Homo sapiens: one gene and its partner. The protein of the gene in region 1 interacts with the protein of each later gene in a pairwise test. Each region holds a gene or a part of one and is shown on either strand. Other genes may lie near its edges.

The links.
Region 2: the proteins of INSIG2 (region 1) and SLC18A1 interact in a two-hybrid assay, tested with the Homo sapiens proteins (one large-scale study listed by BioGRID).

What each region holds. Positions count from the first base shown.
Region 1 is NC_000002.12:118,101,670-118,105,488, forward strand, and holds part of INSIG2 (insulin-induced gene 2 protein), read left to right. Parts: intron 1-1,527; coding exon 1,528-1,652; intron 1,653-3,819. UniProt on the Homo sapiens protein: Oxysterol-binding protein that mediates feedback control of cholesterol synthesis by controlling both endoplasmic reticulum to Golgi transport of SCAP and degradation of HMGCR.
Region 2 is NC_000008.11:20,180,186-20,184,731, reverse strand, and holds the start of SLC18A1 (chromaffin granule amine transporter), read left to right. Parts: upstream 1-1,595; 5' UTR 1,596-1,669; intron 1,670-2,779; exon of another isoform or gene 2,780-2,983; intron 2,984-3,644; 5' UTR 3,645-3,767; coding exon 3,768-3,891; intron 3,892-4,546.

The DNA of each region.
Region 1 (3,819 bases):
TGCTTGTTGCCATTTTATTTGTATAGAAATTTTAAAATCCTGTCAGTTAATCTTGTCAGGATTTTGGAGCAGATTTTTAAATAGGAATATAGTGTGAAACTTCTAGATTTACTAATAGTTATTGGAGCTCTGCATTGCCGAGATATGTTCTTAATCTCTTGATGTTCTGTGAGCCATCTATACTCAGCACATGCCTAACTCAAAAGAGTTGTGGACTAGAAAATGCATACAGTATTGCAGCATCTCATCTCGAGATAGAAGGGTGGTCACACAGCCTTTTTCAAATGCTGCACCATTGGTCTGCTAGGCTGTGATTTTTGATACTAATTGGTTTCTGTTTTTCTTCGAAGAGTGAATGCATTGCCTGTGAGATACAGCTGGCTAATACTGGGTAGGGGGAGGGCCTCTTGTCCCTCAGGCACTTAGATTTTGGCGTTGTAATTTCATGATTCCTCTTAAGTGGTATTGGTTATTTTAAACATGCTTTTCAACTGATGTGACAGTAGTGTCTTTATTGCCAGAATGGCACAACATAATCATCCTGTTTTTAGGAAGATTAGAATATTTTCATTAAATAGTCTTTTTAATAACTAATTTAGCACTTAAAATTCCTTCCCACTAAATGAATAAAATGTTGAGGTTTGAGAAATAAGAAAGGGATGAGAATATTTTGGGACTCAATCATTGACATTTTATATACAGTTATGTATAATTAATGACACAACATTCAAAGTGTTCTTTCCAAAACTAAGAGAAGTACTAAGATGATTTCTTCTTCTAACAGTGCACTTAAAATTTAACTGAAAATTTTAAATACCTCTACACCTTGTTTCCTCCATTGTTTCTATGTGCAGAATGAGTCTTACCTGTAGATTTCTGTTGTGAGTTTTCCTGCTTTGACAATATGACCTACAGCCTCATTAAAGGGCTAGAGTGGAAAGGAGTGTCAGTAAAAGGTGCTACATGCTGAAGACTAAAACGGGAAGCTGGTAGGGGCGAGACTGATCTACGTAAGAGGCCAGCCAGAACCTTCAGAACATTGTGTGTATGATGAGCTTGTTGTATACTTTTATACTTCTAGATTCTCTTAGATTTGTGGCATATAATAAATATTTTATGGTTTGGAGTTTAGAGAGAACATTACTTAACTGCTAACTGGTTTGATACTTTTTTCAGGTCTCGTAGGTATCAGTAGTAGAAAAGTAGCATGAATCATTTAGTAGCACGAATCATTTAGTCCAGTCTGCTAAATTGTGAATCATACATTTGAAGAGTATTTTGTTGATTATAATTTAGAATGTTGTTGTAATCATTTGCAATACTTTCTTCATTGGTGTTATCCTCATTTCATTTCCTTTGGAAGGTAAGTTAAAAAATATCGGTGATTGATGTGAAATAACTTTTTTTTTTGTTTTTTTTTTTTTAAGAATCTTTAAAATGCTTGTGGTGGTTGTAGTGATTCTTTTAGCTTAAGTGTTGCCAGTACAACATTGGAGGTAACTTAATTTTTTTCTTTTTTCCCTACAGCTGTGATTGGGTTATTATACCCCTGCATTGACAGACATCTAGGAGAACCACATAAATTTAAAAGAGAGTGGTCCAGTGTAATGCGGTGTGTAGCAGTCTTTGTTGGTATAAATCATGCCAGTGCTGTATCCTTTACTCTGTAATGAAATGCATAATAACAAAGTGGCTTCCAACAAACCAAAGGTTAAACAGCCCCTTACAACTTCACTGTTGTCAAATTATGATATGCCCACTTAGTCAGAAGAAGAATGTCAACCATATTGTTGAAACATCGGTGTAGCAGCTGTGCAATTATAAAGTGGGGTATAGCCTTTCATTTCATTGTGTATTTTTCACTATCACTTAGAAACTTTGCAAATTTGAAAACTTTACTTGTTTTTCTTAAATTTGGTTACTTAATTACTTTTGTGTAGTTAATCCAAAAATGGAACAGGTACATTTTCAGAGGAGTTTTTTCCTCTCTTTCTTTGTTAAGAATTGCTAATAAGTACATGTGGTAGCTTCAGGTGCTATTTTGTCTTTTGTTTTTCTTAACTTAAAGAAGCTTTTTTTTTTTAAAGGTAGATGCATTGGTTTTAATCAATACCGACAAACCACATAAACGGCATAAGTAGAAATACCAACTTAGACCTTGGCCAAAAAATAAGTTTCTACCCTAGTACATATTTTCAAAGTTTTATTGTTTGAAGATTCAGACATTTTATTTAGTGGTTAATGAGTATTTTTACAGTGTCTCAGGTAGCCCCTATTCCCCTTCCCCTTTCTACCTTCTCTGCCCAGAAAAAAATGTTTGCCCTCATAAGGTTTTCCTCCTATCATCCTCTTTATTTCCTCTCTTGTACTTCCTCCTCATTTGCTCTGACTTTCCTTGGTAGAAGAGGAACTAGGAAATGCTATTCCTGTCTTTTTCTAGGAGATGTGGTTTAGACAATGAAGGTGGCAGGAGCCTTGGGTACTTGGAAAAGCAAGAAGTGTGACTCAGGCTGCCAAAAGTTTGCTCTTATAACTCTGCACTGGACTTGGGGCAGGCAGAGTTAGCTAGCTGGAGAGAGAGGGTGGGTCATGTGTCAAGTAGACCCCTGTGTCTTTCCCAAAAAGTATTGAGGTGTTTTGGATAAGCTTGGGGACAGAAACCATAGAAAAGAGCAGGGTCCTAGATTCTGAAAACACATCTGCCTTCCTCTGCACAGTTGTGCTGGCTGTTGCAGGTCTGTGAATTTGGAAGTCCCTCAGTGGCTATTATTAGTTTTAATTTCTGTTTGTATTGAGGACATTTCCACATGTTTATTTTGGTGAACTTTTTGAGATTTAAGATTTTATAAAAAATCTAGTGGTCAGGAGGGCTTAAAAAGTTAAAATCATATACTATTATATCTAGAAGAGAACTTAGAAATCACCTAGTTCCACATTTTCTTTGTAAAGATAATAAACAGAAGCTAAAGAGGTTAGGTAATTTACTAAGTCATTTATACTGCGACATTGCAGCAGAGCTGAGAACAGCCCTGAGACAGCCTGACTAAAGTCTAGAAACATCTCATTTTCCTACCCAGGAACCTCAAAACTGTGTCAGTTCCTCTCTGTCCGGTGGATTAGATCTTTCTCTCTTAGACACTTCCACTTTGATTTTTGTTTTTAAGTAGAGAAATTTAAATAGCCTTTTCTGAAATTCTAAAAACTTAATAAGTTCAAATTCTTTGCTTTGTTCACTCTCTTTCTCAATGAAATACTTAAATATAGCAATCTTAGATATCCTGTTGTCCTTCAAGTAAAGTCCAACATGTTTACCAAATTTATAGCATACACTTCTAATATTAGGTTACTTAGACTTTACAAAATCATTTGGCACTATTTTTTTATTTTTTGAGACGGAGTCTTGCTCTGTCACCCAGGCTGGAATGCAGTGGCACAATCTTGGCTCACTGCAAGCTTCGCCTCCCGGGTTCACGCCATTCTCCTGCCTCAGCCTCCTGAGTAGCTGGGACTACAGGCACCTGCCACCACACCCGGTGAATTTTTCTGTATTTTTAGTAGAGATGGGGTTTCACCATGTTAGCCAGGATGGTCTCAATCTCCTGACCTTGTGATTCGCCCACCTCGGTCTCTCAAAGTGCTGGGATTACAGGCATGAGCCACCGCACCTGGCCCATATGGCACTATTTTAAGATTGATATATCTATTTACGCTGGAAGCCTCCTTACTTCGCTGTGACTTTTAATTAAGTTTAGTTAGCAAACATGAAACTCATTTAATACCAAATTCCACTCTTTACATGAGTGTTTATTTCATAGGGAA
Region 2 (4,546 bases), on another chromosome or scaffold:
CTCCTAATCCTGGAACCTGTGAGTATGTTGCCTTGGTAGTCCCCTATGGTAAAAGGGACTTTGCAGATATGATTAAGGATCTTGAGATGGGGAGGTGATCTTGGAATATCTGGGTGGGCCCAGGGTCATCCCGTGAGTCCTTACAAGTGAAAGAGGGAGGCAGAAGGCTCAGAGTCAGAGGGAGAGTTGAATATGCATTGCTGCTAGCTTTGAGGGTAAAAGTGGCTAGGAGCCAAGAAATGCAGGAGATCTCTGGAAGCTGGAAAAGGCAAGGAAACAACCATCCCCCAGAATCTCCAGAAGGAATGCAGCCCTGCCGACACATTCATTTTAACCCGGTGTGATGTATTTTGGACTTCTGACCTCCAGAACTGCAAGATACTAAATACGTGTTGTTTTAAGCCACCAGATTGTAGTAATTTGTTACAGCAGCAAACTATAGCGATGAATACATTCTGCTGATGTCTTTGTTTCCTATCCCTATTTCTCGCTCTAGGTTTACATTTTAAAACTGTTTCCATCTAGGCCGCGCGCTGTGGCTCGCGTCTGTAATTCCAGCACTTTGAGAGGCCAAGGCAGGAGGATCACTTGAGGTCAGGACTTCGAGACCAGCCTGGCCAACATGGTGAAACCCTGTCTCTACTGAAAATACAAAAATTAGCTGAGCATGGTGGCATGCACCTGTAATCCCAGCTACTCAGGAGGTTGAGATTAGAGGATTGCTTGAACCCAGGTGGTGGAGGTTGCAGTGAGCCAAGATCATGCCACTGCACTCTAGCCTGGGTGACATAGCGAGACTCTGTCTCAAAAATAAAAAAAATAAAATTAAAAAACTATTTTCTTTTTTTTTAGCGTTAAATCGAAAGTTCCCTAGTTAATTCCCACAATTAGGAGGGGCCCACCAGTTCCACAAATAGGAAATCTCTGCACTGCTCTTGCTCGTAAAGTGTATTTGCTTTTTCATAAATTGCTTATGTTCTTTGAGCCACCAATGGTTTAATGTCAGAATAATATAGATCATTAGAGCCTCTCAAGATCCCACAAGGAACTGCACTTTCTCCTGTAGTTAACCATCCAGTCATCCATGCAAGAAATATTTATTGGATGCTACCATGTATCAGGCACTGAGCCAGTATTGAGATGTGAAGACACAGTGCATAATCTAAGCCTTTACAGAGGCCACAGATGTTGGGTTTTTATGGCTTGAGAACAACATACATTGTTTCTTTCCAGGAAGCTAATTGGGGTACATGGAGCCACTTTGACTAAGTAGCAAGGAACAGGAACTGCACACTGGTTCCATCTTGGCTTCCAATTTGTATTCAGACCCAGGCAAGAGTTAAAGAGTTCGATGATAGATAAGCACAGATGCAAAACAGTACAGTCCAGTGCCTCTTTGCTTAGGCTAATATCTGCCCTCTCTTTATCCTCTCCAGCCCTGCCTTCCTGCCTTTGACGCAGGGAGCTAAGGGTCTGAATGAACCCTGTTGGAGGTTGCAATTAAATCTTTGTGGACAAAGGCACACACACACACACATACACAGAATCCTCAGATAACAGGAGGCAATAAATCCAACAGCACATCCACGTTCAGAGAACAGTGTCCCTGCTGTCTTGCTAACAGCTGCCAATACCTCACTGAGTGCCTCACACCAACATGGGCTCCAAGGTAAGATTTTTCTCTCTCCGGACAAATTTAATCTTTCCTTGTGATTTGTGTCTCTGTCAGAGGATTTTGACTGTTAAGTAAAGTTTACTATTGATTTGTTGGCAAATTCCTGGTTTTGTTTGTTTTTGTTTTGGGATTTGGGTGTGTGTGTTTCTCTCTCTTTGTAGTACTTACTTCACTCACTATGTTTTTTAATTTTCCATGGCTTGTCTTTTATTCTTATCCATACATATCCTAAGTCAATTTGTATTCAGAAATACCTCCTTTATATAGAGAAATGAAGGATCTTAAGTAATTGCATGCATTTACTGGTTAAAACTTAACTGAGAATTTGGTTCACTTAGGACCTTGGTCACGTTAATATGTAGTAGTGAGAGGGTTCTTCCAGCCCTGGGCTTAGAACAGAGTACCTCAGTGTTTGGGGTACTCCCAACACCTGAGGCTGACTATTGAATTTCAGTGATAATCATTTAAAATTATTTACTTCTTTAATTACAAAAGTAGCTCATTATTGAATATTTAGAAATACACAGAAGATAACTGAAGTCATTGATTATAAATAACTGGCATTTGAGTATCTCTCTACTCTCTCAAAAATGTGCCCATATATTTATATTTAGACAATTGAGATAAAGTTGAAAACACAGTTTAATTTCCCTTTTTTACTTAACGTTATAGTAATAGTATTTTCTGTATCATTAAAATTATTTGAAAATATAATTTTTAAGAGCCGCTTAATAATCCACCATTAACATGTTTGACTTTTTTCACTAAGAAAAATAATTCTGCAATTGATCATTTTGAGTATAAGTCTTTGGCTGCATCTCTGACCTTTTTTCTTTTGTAGGATGGGTTCCTTGTAGTAGAGTTACTAAGTCAAAGAGTATACAATTTTTAGGGCCTGATAGATTTCATGATGGTAATCTATTTTAAAATTTAAATGAGTGATATTGTTGATACCACAACAGAAGCCACGTCAAAGAAAATGAAATTCTCCCCAGAAACTCTTATTACTTGAAGTTTGACAAGGTACTGTGACTTAATGCTGACTAATGATATGAAATCCTGAATAGAGAACTAATCATGAAAGTCAATATTTTATTTTCACAGATGAAGGCATCTTTCTGATCAGGGGTTTGTAGCTCAAACAAAAGAATGAGCGTGCTTCTAGAACCACAGAGCAAGGGAACATGGTAGAGGATAAGCTGGCAAGTTGAAAAGCGTGGGATTTCATCCCAGTTTGACACTAACTGTGCAACCCCAAACAAATCTCCTAACCTTCAGAGGCTCGGATTTCTTGTCTATGAGATGAAGGTTGGTCTACATCAGTGTTTCTCAGTGGGCAGCCCAAGTGACACTGTGCCACATGAAATATTTTGGGGTAGCACCTAGAACAAAGGTCATACTTTTTTTGCATGCCACATAAAATAACTTTTTGAAACATGATATCAATATCTATGTTGGTTTTAAAAATTTTTTGAGAGTTAGGGGTCTTGCTATGTAGTCCAGGCTGGACTCAAACTCCTGGGCTCAAGATATCCTCCCACCTCAGCCTCCCAAGTAACTGAGACTCCAGGCACATCCCACCATACCTGGCAGTATCTCAATATTTTAAAAGAGTGGATCTAGAGGAAAAAGATGAAGTAAATGATAGTACAGGTAGTCCTTAGATATGACATAAACCATCAAGGTGATAGGCAAATAAATGTCGGATGTTTGAAAAACACAGGGTTAAGTGATCTGTAGAGCATCTATTTTTATCTGGATTTATACCTAGCCATTAAATTCAAGGGAAATTAATGGCTAGATATAAATCCAGACATAAATAGCTAGTAAGCGATGCTTACCAGGAAGGCATTCTGGGAACCAGGTAGAGTTATTGAGATTTATAAGAAGTGAACAGTGATACAGACATGGAGATGTTTCCAAATATCATCCTACTACTTGCAACCCTTTGCACTTTTCGTTTTAATAGTGAGTTTCCTTCGTCTGGGCAGACTCCCTCCCCTCTTCCATAAAGGCTGCAGGAGACCTGTAGCTGTCACAGGACCTTCCCTAAGAGCCCGCAGGGGAAGACTGCCCCAGTCCGGCCATCACCATGCTCCGGACCATTCTGGATGCTCCCCAGCGGTTGCTGAAGGAGGGGAGAGCGTCCCGGCAGCTGGTGCTGGTGGTGGTATTCGTCGCTTTGCTCCTGGACAACATGCTGTTTACTGTGGTGGGTACGTTTGTGGGTCTTTGTGCTGAGGGTTAATTTGCTGTGGGCCCCAGCAGGCAGTGTACACCCTGCTTGAGTTCAACAGTGAATCCATCTGAGAATTTTCCTTTTTATGCTCAAAAACACACAGAGGTTGTTGGGGACTGGAAAAAAGCCCTGCAGAAAATGGAGTCTGACACTTGTCAAACACAGCTAAAAGACTCAGGAGGTTCAAAGAGCAGGAGGTCCAGAGAGGGTCTGACTGGAGAAGAGGATGGCCCGGAGCCAGAACTGGCTGTGCTTTTCTTTCTCCCCACACTGTCTTCTCAAGGTGCTAATGACTCCAAGTGCCTCTGAGGCAGCGAGATCTTCTCACAGGGGTGCCTTTCTGGACTCTGCTCTATAAAAACAGCATATTTTATTTGGATATCTGATTTAGTATCAAGACCTTGCCTTCCTTGTGGTTCTTTCCCTCAGAATCCTGCTTTTTTTAGTTGATACTCTCCTAATCATTACATTAAGTTACACCCTTGTATAAATGGGCACTAAAAGGTTTCTCCTCTTGGGTAAAACATATGTTTTTAAAAAAGGATCTTTCTGAGACAAGTTGTTAATCCAATACAATCACTTCTCATTATTCATAGTTCTGTAGTTATAGTTATGCTCTATAAAGTCGCTGC